Homo sapiens: one gene and its partner. The protein of the gene in region 1 purifies or fractionates together with the protein of each later gene. This does not show direct contact. Each region holds a gene or a part of one and is shown on either strand. Other genes may lie near its edges.

Evidence for each region. Proteins that work in one complex are often made in the same cells at the same time.
Region 2: the proteins of CCDC40 (region 1) and KIAA0319L purify together in Homo sapiens (affinity purification with mass spectrometry; 2 studies listed by BioGRID and IntAct, with this or other methods). This does not show direct contact.

What each region holds. Positions count from the first base shown.
Region 1 is NC_000017.11:80,081,642-80,085,680, reverse strand, and holds part of CCDC40 (coiled-coil domain-containing protein 40), read right to left. Parts: coding exon 3,892-4,039; intron 3,806-3,891; coding exon 3,623-3,805; intron 939-3,622; coding exon 693-938; intron 1-692. UniProt on the Homo sapiens protein: Required for assembly of dynein regulatory complex (DRC) and inner dynein arm (IDA) complexes, which are responsible for ciliary beat regulation, thereby playing a central role in motility in cilia and flagella.
Region 2 is NC_000001.11:35,504,992-35,508,912, forward strand, and holds part of KIAA0319L (dyslexia-associated protein KIAA0319-like protein), read right to left. Parts: intron 2,145-3,921; coding exon 1,621-2,144; intron 1-1,620.

The DNA of each region.
Region 1 (4,039 bases):
AAAAAAAAAAAAAAGCAAAATTAGCCTTCTTGGGCTCAAAGGTCTTTGTGAGTGGGCTGCAGAGGGCCTGGAACCCTGAGGTCATGAAACTGGACGAAGGCCGAGGGGCTCAAGTTAGCTCTCAGCAGGGCCGCAAGCCACAGACCCCGCTGGAGGAAATATGGCTAAGGGGCTCTGGAGCCCCCTCTAGCTTCCCCATGGTGGGTGCGCTGGCAGGGTGGGTGGGGCCTCTGGAACCCAAAGGGGCTTTGAGAGTACAGGGACCTGGATGACGTATATGGCATCAGGCCTCAAACGCATTAGGCCACTTTTCTTAGAGCAGCAGAATATTTCGTGCTGGGTGAAAATTATTTGGAATTCAGACTTCAGTGGCCTTGAATAACATCTGATTGGACACAGCCGTGCCCATTCCTTTACGTTTTACCTATGCTCCTTCTCGCTATGGAGGCAGAGCCGTGTCACTGCCAGAGAGACCAACTGGCCACAAAGCCGGAATACTCTCTGGCCTTGTGCAGAAAAATGTGACTTAGAGCGCTTGGCACACGTGCCATTTTGTCTGTAAAGCAGGTAGGGAAAGAGGCAGTTCTGTGCCTTCCAGGAGTTCATGTCTGACCGTGGGGGATCTGAGGGGGCTCTGCCCCACCAGGCACCACAGTCAGCCGGGGACCACGTCTCCCTGCCTGGGACCTCACCCCCAGCTCGGAGACCATCCGCTCCAGCTGCTTGTTGAGGAAGTTGATGAGCCCTTGCTTCCTCTCGATCAGGATCGTGCGCCGGGAGATCTCGCTCTGGCTGTTGGTGATGAGCTCGTTGACTTTCTTCACGTCCTGGTCCAGCTCCACCAGGGTCTTCTGGTGTGCGTCCAGCCTGCTGCTGGTGTGTGTGATGTCCAGGGTGGTCTGGGCAATGTCACCGTTGATTTTGGAAAGATGTGTCATCTGAATTGATGAAAAGAAATACCTGTGAATATTGCCCCCACCCAAGGCCCGGGACGAGTTTGCTGATCCACCGTTCCCTGACGGTCGGGATGTTCCTCTGGAGATATTCCAAACGCACAGTCACGAGTGCAGGAGGCTGGATTTCCCACTGTCTCCAGGACCCAGCAAGGGACCTACTTGTTGGAACCCAGATGTTGGCTTTTTACAGAAAAGAGAGATCATGGTATTAGCTTTTCTTATTGATGTGGTTTGGCTGTGTCCCCACTCACATCTCATCTTGAATTGTGTCCCCATAATCCCACATGTCAAGGGAGGGCCCCTGTGGGAGGTGACTGGACCATGGGGGCCGCTACCCCCATGCTGTTCTCATGATAGTGAGTTCTCATGAGATCTGATGGTTTTGTGTGTTTGACGGTTCCTGCTTCACACACACTCTCTCTCCTGCTGCCTTGTGAAGGAGGTGCCTGTTTCGCCTTTTGCCATGATTGTAAGTTTCCTGAGGCCTCCCCAGCCATGCAGAACTGTCAGTCAATTAAACCTCTTTCCTTTATCAGTTATCCAGTCTTAGGTATTTCCTACAGCAGTGTGAGATCAGACTAACACACTTCTTAAATCGTAGCACACACATTGTGAGGAAATGTGAAAATACAGGCCAGGACAGAGAACACATTCAATTGCCTGCAATTCTGACACAAGTTAGCTACCATTCCCATCTGAATCCATTTTTCCTCCCAGTCTTTTCTATATAATTCTCCAAAATAAAAATAGGATCACACCCTACACACTGGGTGCTAACCTGCTTTTTAATCTGGTAAGTCGGGTCTTATGTTCCTGTGCTCTGTAAGCTGTAATGGCTGTGCTGTACTCTATCACATTTGCAGCATAGTTTATGAAGCAAGAAGCAATTGTTAGACACTGGTTCCTCCATGCGTTCTGACCCCTCCTGCTGTCCGGCAGGTCTGAGCCGCCAGTGCTGGCCTCCTCTGTGGGCTCTTTGGAGGCATTAGACAGACTTTGGATCCCTTCTGGCAACGGGGGGTTTATCGAGAGGACGTTTGTGATAATCAGGAGTGAGGCAGTGGCAGTCACAGCTGCAATGGTGTGGCCAAAGCTGCTCTGGGAACAGGGAGATGCTGTCACCACCAGGACAGGGTCCTCTTCCCCAGGGCATGGTTCTAACAGGTGGCCTCGGGCCCTGTGTCTGCCCTGAGCACCCCTGCCCGTCGGCTCCTGCCACACAAGGCCTTGGCTCTCTCACGACTGTGGCTCCTGCCTACCCCAGCCTCCTCAGGGCCATCTGAGCTTCTCCTCCCGCCACGCCTGTGGGCTCCATGTCTCTCACTGGCCACCACGGGCGGCTTCCCAGGAGACCCAATGTCCCCAGGTGGTGGAACCCAGACCCTGCCCACCTGGAGTGGAAGCTTCCGGCATCTGGAGTTGTGTGGCAATGTCAGCTCGCAGCCTCCTCCTCTGCCAAGTTCACCCTGAGATCTGGGCCCCCCAAGGACTCCCTGCCTCCCCCCTCCCCAACTGCCCTGCAGGGGCTATGGCTCCAAGTCCCCTTCAGTCCCTCCCCGTCACAGCCGGGCCTGCACCCCCGCTCCACTCCTGGCTGTTTGTGGTCTCTGTGGAGCCCACCCTGGCTCCCCCTAGGCATCTACACCATCCCTGGATTAACTGCCTGGACCCCGTGGTTGACCCCAGCTCCGGATGGGTGGTCCCGCCCATCCACACTTTGCTCCTCCTCCCAGATATGCCTCCCCACCCCACCTTCTATCAGCCCATGAGGCTTTGAGCAGTTCAAACATCGTGTCGGGGGTACTCTTTTCAGCAGCTGGACTGGCATCGGTTGGAAAATTGTCGTAATAGACGAATGTGTTGGTCCAAGACTCTTTGCTGCCCTCTTCTGGAAACTGGCAGCAAAACACGTATGACCTATCGGGCTGCCCAGACAGGGGCTCGGCGGGGGCCCGGGGGCCTGGGGATTGGGAACTGGACTTGGCTGGTAGCAGCACGGCTGGATGGGCTCCTTCACACCCACCACGCCCTTCAGCTCTGCCTGGCCAGCTCCTTTCCCACCCCTCAGGAGGGCAAAACCGGCAGAGCTTGGCATCGGGAATCTGTCACCCTCCTCTGAGACTAAAATGGGGACTGTTGGGCAGGCCCCACTGCTAGGATGTGCTCTGGAAATGGTGGAGCCTGTGGTAGCCTCTGGGGGTCCTCCAAAGGGGCCTGCTTGAGGCGGGGTGTTGGGGAGGCGGTCACCCCTCGGGAAGAGGCAAAGAAAAAACAATTCAAGTAAGGAATTGTTTTTTCTAAGGACACAAGTCCCCTCCACCCCCACCACAGGTGATAAAGGATAAAGCAAGATCCCAGGGGATGCGAACATGAGCTCACAATTGGGGGTTCCCTGCCATGGACGTCGAAGTCACACTCCAGGTCCCCCCAGGGAAATCAGCCTTTGGCTGGCAGCTGGCCATGCGGTGGCTCACGCCTGGCCTATTTCTAGGTTTTCTACAGTAAAAATGTATCACCCTTACAACCTGAACACCATGGAAAGGAGTGAGCACAGGAGGGCCCTCTGCTCACACTGACTCCGCCCTCTCCGCCTCCAGGACGGCTTGCCCTCATATGCCCAGGCTGCAGGGGGCTTCGCACAGCCCCTCCCTGGGGCAGGGGCCTACCATGTTGGTCTTCTCCTTCTGCAGCCTCAGGATGAGCTGGTTGAAGTATTTGGTGGTCTTGTTGGAGGTCATGTGCTCCTGCAGCTTCTCCCGGATGGCAGCATCCGTCTTCCTCCTGAGCTCCAGCTCGCCCTGGATGGCTTGGCGGATGGCCTGCAACTCCTCCGTGAGTATCATTTGTTCCTGGAGACAAGGAGCCACAGGGTGCACGTGCCTGAAGAGGCACCACCGTGCGCCAGGTGTGACCTGTGGGGCGGGCCCGGCCTCACCAGCTGGTCCTGGCTGAGGGCATCCTCTGTGTCCTGCAGGGTGAGCCTGTAGGTATTGAACTGGCTCTGCAGGGCCACCTGCTTGGTCAGGCACTGGGTGGTGAGCTTCTGCAGCAGTGTGGCTTCCGTCTCTGTCCGGTTCAGGATG
Region 2 (3,921 bases), on another chromosome or scaffold:
TTTTCCCTGTTTCTTTTCCGAATTCCTACTTCAAATATCAGCTTAAACTTTCTTTCTTTAAAGTGGCCTAACCTGACACCTTAGTTTGTATTAGGTGCCTGTTGGATGCTTTCACGGCACTCTGTATTTACCCTCTCATTACCCACATCAAGCTTATAATTATTATAATAATTTAATTATTAGAAATGTAATATTCCTTGCCAGAGTATAAGCCTTGTTAAGGCAGAAATGATATTCATCTTATTTATTGTAATATTCCCAGTATCCAGCTTAGTATAGTACCTCGCAAGTAAATACACAATGACTATGACCGAGCCTTTACATACACTGTGGCTCTGTCCAGAATGTTTTTTTACCACCATTAACCCCACCCCAGTACAATCCTACACATCCTTCAAGAAATGTTAAACATCTCGGAGAAGTCTTACCTGCACATACACACCACTTGCCTGCTGAAGTGAATCACTTCTTGTGTTCTTACTGCATTGTGTACATAAGTATGTTAATGCAATAATTATACACCACTGTAAATACCTATCTTCATGTATCAGTCTCCACTAGATTATAAACTCCCTGAGGGAATGAACCATTCTTATTCACCTTTGTATCTCTAAGGCTTAGAAAAGTGCCTGACATTGACAGTAGGTAGCCATAAATGTTTATGGGCATATTAAATCTAGGATTGTTCTCTAATACTGCACTAAAAAGTTTTTTTCTTAATATTAAATCTGGGTTCCAATTCTAGCTATGCTGCATGATCACTGGCAAACTGTTTAACCTCTCTGGGCCTCAGTTTTCTCACCAGGTAAACAGGGCTAATAATGCCTACTTGGAAATATTGCTATGAAAATTAAACAAAATGATACAGTGCAACAATTAGTACACAGAGCGCTTGGCATGTCATAGCCCACTCTGGCTTCAACTTGATAGAGACAACTAGGACAAAACAAATACAAAAATAAGTCACAGCAATCAAGGAAGACTGAGCAGAGAGTGAGTCATTCCTTTTAATCATTTCCCCAAGGAGATCAACAATGAAGAAACATAATAAGCAGAATAAACTCTACTGGTGGTATCTCCCTTGGCATATACAGCTTGGTGAGAATTCACTCCAGAGACCTCTTGGCTAATGGCCACATCCTGCTCCACAGCCCAGCAGGTCAGATCTTAATCTGTAGTACCAAGCATGGTTAATTCTGACTGGAATAGAAACTACCTCATAAAGAATGTGTTTACAGGCGAGAGATGGAGGAGAACTTGACTGTAACCACATCAATCAACTGTTTTGCAATTTGGCAGAAAATACTGCAGAATGGTTGGTGAATACTAACAGCCATACAACTGTACTTACCTGTAGCCAAGAACCAGCTTAGACTAGATAATGAGCAGCTTTCTGCATTTACCAAAACAATGGTCAGACCTACATAGCATGAACATCTCTAGGGTCAAATTACCCTTTGTACATCTGGGCAGCACCAAAGAAGCTGACACCAAGCAGCTTTATATATACACTCCTCAGCCTATGAGCACTGCCCGCAAGCATCAGCTTCATTGCTCATATATACCAAATGTAAGAGCAGATTTAACCATTTCTCTGCTCCTTATTCATAGCATGCTTACCTCTGCAGAGCCACTGGTAGTCAGACCACCTAATTCGTTGGAGTCATTCACTTTAGAATGCTGTGTCACTATAGGTGTAACTACGTCACTGGGACTACCTCTCTTCTGAAGCTTCCTGATTAAGCTCTGCTGGTCACTGGAAGATACAGCAGGTCTGAGTGCAGCTCTGGGTGGGCTCTGCCTCCAAGATGCCCAGTTCCAACCTAGCCCCAGAAGATGTGGTACATCATCTTCAGGTAGAAAGCCCAAATCATCTGCAGTTTGGAATTTTTTTAAAAACACCAGCATGGAATTGGAGGAGTGTGTCCTAAAAGCCCGGCAGCTCTGGGGCCTGCTGCAGTCTGCCTGAATGCACATCCCTTCTAGCCACCAAAAGACATGGCAGGCAGAGTCCTGGCAGCAGGCAGCCCAACATGACTGGAGAGAGGGGGTTCCTTCAAGAAGCCAGAGGTGATTTTCTCCCCCAGATCTCAGGCCAACTCCAAATTGTGTCTTCCCCTGCTGGCACCTGCTCTCACTGGCATCTAAAAACAAAGAATGAAAACATTTTCAGATGAAATAAAAACAGAGACTACTGCTCCATAAAGAGCCCTGAGAACCAACATTTGAGGTTATTTTGAAGACGAGTTTTTAAGAGGGTGAGAAAGCCATCTAGTGAGTGGAACAAAGGAAGTGAAAGAGAGTGTTTTTTGTCTTCGGATATTTTAGGTTCTAGAAATACTGCTCCACATTCATTAATTGTTCTCCTTCTCAATGAGTTCCTGCCATGGAGACCTTTTACACAGAATGTCACTTCATAAACAGGAAAACAAAAACAAAAACAAAAACAAAAAAAGAGGTATTCTGGTGGAAGCATATGCAGGGAAGTGGCAAGTTGGGAGGAAGAGGGCAGAGTCCCAATACCTGATGACCTCCCACTCACCTCCAAGGTATTTCTCAGGGACAATGTGAGAACTGTGGGACCAGAAGAACAGGTAGCAATGTGAGAACTGTGGGACCAGAAGAACAGTTTCCCCAGCAAACTGGCAGCAACACAGACTGAGTACTCTGAACCTCATGCAGTTAATAGGCACATTCATTCTTTAACCAATCATTTGCCAAAGTCAAATGGTTTTGCATATCATAGTATCAGCCAGAGTGGTAGTCAAGATTACCAAAAATTTTAACCACGAGAGCAATTCTGCTAGAAAGAACTTCCTAATGACAAGTCATGTCATGATAAGAAATAATGGAACCTAAGTACAACAGTGACATGCTATGGGTAACCTAAATAATATGATCCAAAATTCTGGCTAATGTTGCTGATGGATAAACTTTGGACTGTTTTAATTATTTCAGGTATGGCATTGATTTTTCTGAAATAGTATCTCACCTCTGTTTTCTTAGATGAAGTCAAAACTTGTTCTAAATGGAAGTGATTATGTGAGTTCATTTTAAGGTACTGGCTCTATAGGTGTCTATTACCAGCTATTGTCAGGGTTATATAGAAACAGAACTAGGGTGAGGCAAGAGAGGTGCCTCAGGCACAAAATTTAAGGAGGTGCTCACTTTCAGAGTCATTCCAGCAAAGGGTTGGCTCACAGGACCTTCATAGTGAGTGTCTCTTTAAATTCTGTGTTCTGGGCACCTCTCTCCTTACCCTAGTCCTGGCCCTGGGCTTATAACATAAAATATATGTTAGAATTACATAGAAAAAATATGCAATAGAATCAAAACACTGAAGATATGGATAATCATGTCTGCATGTACACACAACTGAAAAGACCTCTAACGAAAGCAACTGACAATCAGCCAAAGCCAATCTGACTCCCACGGAATACTTACTAAATGTCCAACGGACTAAATGTGGAAACTAATCAAAGATAAAAGGAAGGTAAAGGCAAGCTTCTAGAGTATTGAGTCAGGAGCACTATGGAAGCCAGCACTGGCACCAACCTAACACCAGACGAGGCAATTTAGAAGGCCACAGAAAATAGAACTCCCTTAAAAAAAAAGATGAAGAATACCAACTACGAAAAAAAAATCAAGCTACCAACAGATACAGAAATACCCCCTCATTTTTATTTATCCTTCCACACAGGCACCAATAGTAAGAATCTCGGTAACAGCTAACTGAGTGAACAGACTTTGTTGAAATCAAATTGTTTTATCAGTAACTACTATTTTTACCTTTATATCAATTTTCCTTCATTCTTCTCATAACTATTTTCTCATACTTAAGAGGTCAACACAGATGAAAATTATCTGTGCTTTTTTCTAAGCTGATATATTATTTAATTTTTAAAAATGCAATACAACTTC